Linked DNA regions of Homo sapiens: region 2 is linked to region 1. The links come from fine-mapping of genetic effects on gene expression. A gene starts in region 1. The other region holds a variant in brackets. All regions are shown on one strand. Distances are from middle to middle.

Region 1 (2,750 bases):
GGAGAACCCAAGCTAGGCGCGAGCCGGTGCTGTGATCCCGCCAAAGGAGAAGCTGCCTTCCCGGGGAAGGGGCAGAGAGGGGCCGGCGGGCTGAGGCCAACCAGCGCAGAAAGGGCCTGGCAGCCATTACTGTAGCGCTGGCGGCTCTGTCACGCCCCTGAAGCCGCTGGCCCGCGGGTGTGTTCAGCTCAGGAGCGGCCCTGCGTGTTTTTCCCCCGTGGCCGTCGCGGACCCCCGTCTTCCAACAGTGGTGCGGGCGGGGCGCCCCGTCCTGGGTTCGCGGCATAGCCCCGCCCGGGCCCCCACGCGGAACAGAAGTAACGGACCCTTTTTTTTTTGTTTTTGTTTTTGAAACGGAGTGTCGCTCTGTCGCCCAGGATAGAGTGCAGTGGCGCGATCTCGGCTCACTGCAACCTCCGCCTCCCGGGTTCAAGCGATTCTCCTGCCTCAGCCTCCCGAGTAGATGGAACTACAGGCACCCGCCACAATGCCCGGCTAATTTTTGTATTTTTAGTAAAGAGGGGGTTTCGCCATGTTGTCCAGGATGGTCTCGAACTCCTGACCTCGTGATCCGCCCGCCTCGGCCTCCCAAAGTGTTGGGATTACAGGCGTGAGCCACCGCGCCCGGCCCCGGACCCTTCTTTATTGGCCTCAAAACGGGTCATTTTGGGAAGCGGCGCGGGGCTGGCCGCGCTTCCCTGGGCCCCGGCCCTCCCCATGGTGTTTACGGGGAGGCGAACGGGGAGCCCAGAGGCTGCGAGCCTGGCCTGGACCCAGGAGCCAGGGGTATCCCACAAGTCCTGGAGGCTCTGAACGCGGCGCTGACGCCGAATACCTGTGAAAAAGACTCGGGGAGGAGACCCGCAGACCGCCGAGCTTCTGCCGCGGGAACCGCGCCCCCGGCCCCGCAATGCGCCTGCGCCTCGCGCGCCGACTTCCAGTCCCAGCAGGCCGCGGGCGGGGGCGGGGCCTCCGGGGAGAATTCGGGGGAGGGGCGGGGCCTCCGGGAAGCAATCAGGGCAGGGGCGGGGCGTCCGGGGAGTGGGGCGGGGCTCCCGGTTCCAGGCGAGTTCGCAGCTGCGCGCCGGGTCCTGGAGGCCGAGGCCGCTCCCGCCCGTTGTCCCCGCAGTCCCCGACGGGAGCGCCATGGCCCAGCCGCCGCCCGACGTGGAGGGGGACGACTGTCTCCCCGCGTACCGCCACCTCTTCTGCCCGGACCTGCTGCGGTGAGCGGGGCCTGGGAAGCGAGCGCAGCCTTGGTGCGGGGTCCGGTCCGCGGGCGCCGGCGCCCCCACGTGGTCCCCGAGGGCTCGCGTGTTAGGAAACCTGTCTTGCCTGGCTCCTTTCTTTCTTTTTTCTTTCTTTTTTTTTTTTTGAGACGGAATCTCGCTGTGTCGCCCAGGCTGGAGTGCAGTGGCACGATCTCCGCTCACTGCAAACTCTGCCTCCCGGGTTCAAGCGATTCTCCTGCCTCAGCCCGGCTAATTTTTATTTTTAGTAGAGAGGGGGTGTCACCGTGTTGGTCAGGCTCTTTTCGAACTCCTGACCTCAGGTGATCCACCCGCCTCGGCTTCCCAAAGTGCTGGGATTTACAGGCGTGAGCCACCGCGCCCGGCCCAACCTGGCCTCTTTCTTAACAGAAAATTTTAGGTTGAAATCATTTTTCCGGAAGACCCAGAAGGCCCAGGAATGCCAGGTTTTGCCCAGCAGCTCTTCATTTTCCTGCAAACGCCTTGGTGTTCACAAGAGAAGGCAGCCCGGGCAAAGGTCGATCCTCCCCGGTCACCTGCCCTCACTCGGCTAATGGGCGGATCCTTTTTTTTTTTTCCTTTTCTTTTTTTCAATTGGCAACATTTTCAAGTTTCTATTAAAATTTTGATCTTTTGCCAGGAGCAGTGGCTCACGCCTGTAATCCCAGCTCTTTGGGAGGCCGAAGCGGGTAGATCACCAGAGGTCAGGAGTTCGAGACCAGCCTGGCCAACATGGTGAAACCCCGTCTCTGCTAAAAATACAAAAAATTAGCCGGGTGTGGTGGCGCACACCTGTAATCCCAACTACTTGGGAGGCTGAGGCAGGAGAATCACTTGAACTCGGGAGGTGGAGGTTGCAGTGAGCCGAGATCGCACCATTGCACTGGGCAACAAGAGTGAAACTCCATCTCAAAAAAAGAAAACAAGTTTTAAATTATGTTCTCCAAGGACAGGTATTGACAATTCTCTCTGAGTGTTCTGCAGGAAAAAAAAAAAGTTTTTTTTCGAAACGGAGTCTCATTCTGGGTTGAAGCAATTCTCCTGCCTCAGCCTCCCAATTCTCCTGCTTCAGCCTCAGTGCGCCCAAGTGGGACTATAGGCACACAATACCACGCTGGGCTAATTGTATTTCTAGTAGAGGTGAGTGTCACCATGTTGGTCAGGCTGGTCTGGAACTCCTGACCTCAGATGATCCACCTGCCTCGGCCTCCCAAAGTGCTGGGATGACAGGAGTGAGACGCTGCACCTGGCCCAAAATTAATCTTTAATAATTAAGAATAGGAAAGGCAACTTGGAGATCAGCAAAAGTTTGCCATCCATCTGGTACAGTTTGTGCCAGTCATACCGATCAGTACACATTTAATGCGTACAAGAAAATCTCTAATAAATAAAAAAGCCATATTATCCCGACGTAGCTTGCTGAATCTCAGGTATCATATTTGATATTAGTGCCATGCAGGGCTTAGGAGAGAGGAAATTATAACCTCTATCTTGTTTAAG
Region 2 (2,749 bases), 23 kb after region 1:
CCTCCCACAGTCCTGGGATTACAGGCATGAGCTACCACACCTGGCCTAAGGTGGGAGGATCTCTTGAGCCTAGGAGGTTGAGGCTGCCGTGAGCTATGGTCGCACCACTGCACTGCAGCCTGGGCAACAGAGCAAAACCCTGTCTCGGGGAAAAAAAAGAAAAGAAAAGAAAAGAAGGAACTGCTACAGCCCACAGCCTACAAAGGGGACACAGATAGTAGCTCTGAACAGCAGACGGATAGACGGGAACTTGTCCCTTTAGTCTTTCATGAACAGCCTCTAACTGGTCCAGGCAGGGAGGTGCAGGCTTCCAGGCTGTGGTTCCATGGAGGACACCAGCCGGGCACGCAATGGACGTTTTCCAGCCCTAGCACAGACAGAGCGTGCGGGCCCCTGCTCTCAGAAAGCCAGCCTTCTGCCTCTGGCAGCGCCGGCACATAAAAGCAGAGGGAGCCTGCTGTCTCTGCCTCGCCCACACTAACACCCCTATTTAGAAAGGTTGACACATCACTATCACTGCTTCTGAAAATTTTATCCGGCCGAAGGCATCAGCCCAAATTTGAATTCTTGCCAAAGCTGCTGGTGATTTCGTTCTTTGAATGCAGTATCTTCCTCATGAACACGTACAGCTCTTACAAGAAAATGAGAATACGGTTTGGGGAGGAGGATCCCTCACATTCCTTTTCCTAATGCCAGCCTCGCGAAGTCTGGTCCCATGTACCCTGGGATTCTGCCACGGAAGATGACTCACTTAATTAACACGCTGCTCCTGACCGTACACTTGGAAGCAGAGGTTCCGTTCCTTTGGTTCTTGCCAAAGCTGCTTACGAAACCATATCTTGTGTTGGTGCCCATGGTGTGTAAAAATACAAGTTCATCATTTCCCTGATACAAATTATGACAGGCTAAATTTAGTGCCTCACCTGTCCTAACTAGCTTTCCCACCATCATGCCTGCCGCCGGGCTGTGGTCCTTTCTGAGGTCCCGTGTCCCTCTGAGGACAGGGACACCCAGACACAGAGGTCAGTTGTCAGACGCGGCCACGGTGCTCGGGAGGCTGGCTGCAGACGGGCGATTCACCCTGGGTGTCTTCTTGAGTCTTATTTTTTGTAGAGACGAGGTCTCGCTTTGGTGCTCAGGCTGGTCTCAATCTCCTGGGCGCAAGCGATCCTCCCGCTTGGGCGTGGGCCAGCGCGCCCGTCCCAACGCTGGGAGTCCCGGAGATCTTGGTCACAGGCTTAAGGGAAAGGCCTAGCGCGTGGCCGCGCGTGCCTCTGGTTTCAAGGGACATGGACTGCGTGTCTGGGGCCCCTCCGCACTCCGTGTCAGACCCTGCGTCCCCCGGGTCCGCGCGGGACCCGGGCAGGGCGTCGCCCTCTGCGGCGTCTGCGCCCCGCGAACCCTGGGGCACCTGCAACCCCTGGGCCGCGGAGCCAGGCGTGCGCCGCCTCCTGGTCTCATCAACGTGAGAACGCTTTACCCCCGAAGAGCTCAGCTCCTAGGGGGCTATGTCCCTTTGCGTCTCTCGCTCGCCAGGCGGTGCCGTTTACTCGACCGCACCATGCGTGGGTAGCGGTCGCGCCCGCTGGTAGCTGTGCGGCGGGAACACGTTCTAAGTAAGGCCTGACTCCGCGCGCCTCTTGCCAGGGACGTCACGTCACGCCTCCACTCGCAGCCTCGGAGCACCCCCGCGTCCC[G/A]CGCCCGAAGCTCGGGACCCCCGCTCTGGCGAAACGAGGAATATGACATACAGCAAAACACCCCTTCGCGGCCGCTGCACTGCCGCGACACACCCGGCGCCTGCCTCTACAGCAAGCCGGCGAGGGGCTGGGACCCCGCCGGGACGTGCTGACGTCAGGCCCGACGGGGGGCGGGGCCTGGGCGGCGGCGGCGTTAGTTCTCCGGGTACCTCAGGCGCCTCAGCCTCCTTAGTCTCCTCATCCTGCTTCACAGGCTCCGCGGCCTCCGGCCTCCTCGGCCCCCGTCCCCCGGCCTCCTCGGCCCCCGTCCCCCGCCATCCGCCGCCCGGATCCTCGCCGCCCTCCCTAGGCCGCCCCGCCGCCATGGGCCTGCGCCCGCCGCGCCGCCGGGCCGAGGGCAGCTGAGGCGCGGTGCGAAGATGGGCGAGGACAGAGCAGGGCCCGAGCGCCAGCCCCAGCAGCCCGGGCGCCCCGCGCGCGCCCGCCCGCGCCGCCGAGGGGATGCCCGCGCCCGCCGCCGCGCCCTGAGCGCCTTTGTCTGCCGCCCGCGCCCTTCCGCACCACTAGCCTCTCGGGAGCATGGCGTCGGCCCCGCCGGCCTCGCCCCCGGGCTCGGAGCCGCCGGGGCCCGACCCGGAGCCGGGCGGGCCGGACGGGCCGGGGGCGGCACAACTGGCTCCGGGCCCTGCGGAGCTACGCCTCGGAGCGCCCGTCGGCGGCCCCGACCCGCAGTCCCCGGGCCTGGATGAGCCTGCGCCCGGGGCCGCTGCAGATGGCGGGGCGCGTTGGAGCGCCGGGCCGGCCCCGGGGCTGGAGGGAGGCCCGCGAGACCCCGGGCCGTCCGCCCCGCCGCCGCGCTCCGGCCCGCGGGGGCAGCTTGCGAGCCCCGACGCCCCGGGCCCAGGGCCGCGCTCCGAAGCGCCGCTTCCAGAACTCGACCCGTTGTTCTCCTGGACTGAGGAGCCCGAGGAGTGTGGCCCCGCGAGCTGCCCGGAGAGCGCGCCTTTCCGCTTGCAGGGGTCCAGCAGCAGCCACCGAGCGCGGGGCGAGGT

Evidence for each region. PIP is the estimated chance that this variant, and not a neighbour inherited with it, causes the effect.
Region 2: its variant is fine-mapped to the expression of DECR2 in lung (TOPMed, PIP above 0.99). The same link has a PIP of 0.9 or more in breast.

Annotation. Positions count from the first base shown.
Region 1 is chr16:400,818-403,567 of GRCh38, forward strand. It overlaps DECR2 (2,4-dienoyl-CoA reductase 2), which reads left to right and starts at 1,068. Exons shown (of 9, transcript NM_020664.4): 1 at 1,068-1,226. The coding sequence starts at 1,147. RefSeq lists enhancers at 1-200, 48-633.
Region 2 is chr16:423,731-426,479 of GRCh38, forward strand. It overlaps RAB11FIP3 (RAB11 family interacting protein 3), which reads left to right and starts at 1,919. Exons shown (of 14, transcript NM_014700.4): 1 at 1,919-2,749. The coding sequence starts at 2,277. The variant G/A (reference allele first, on the strand shown) is at 1,698.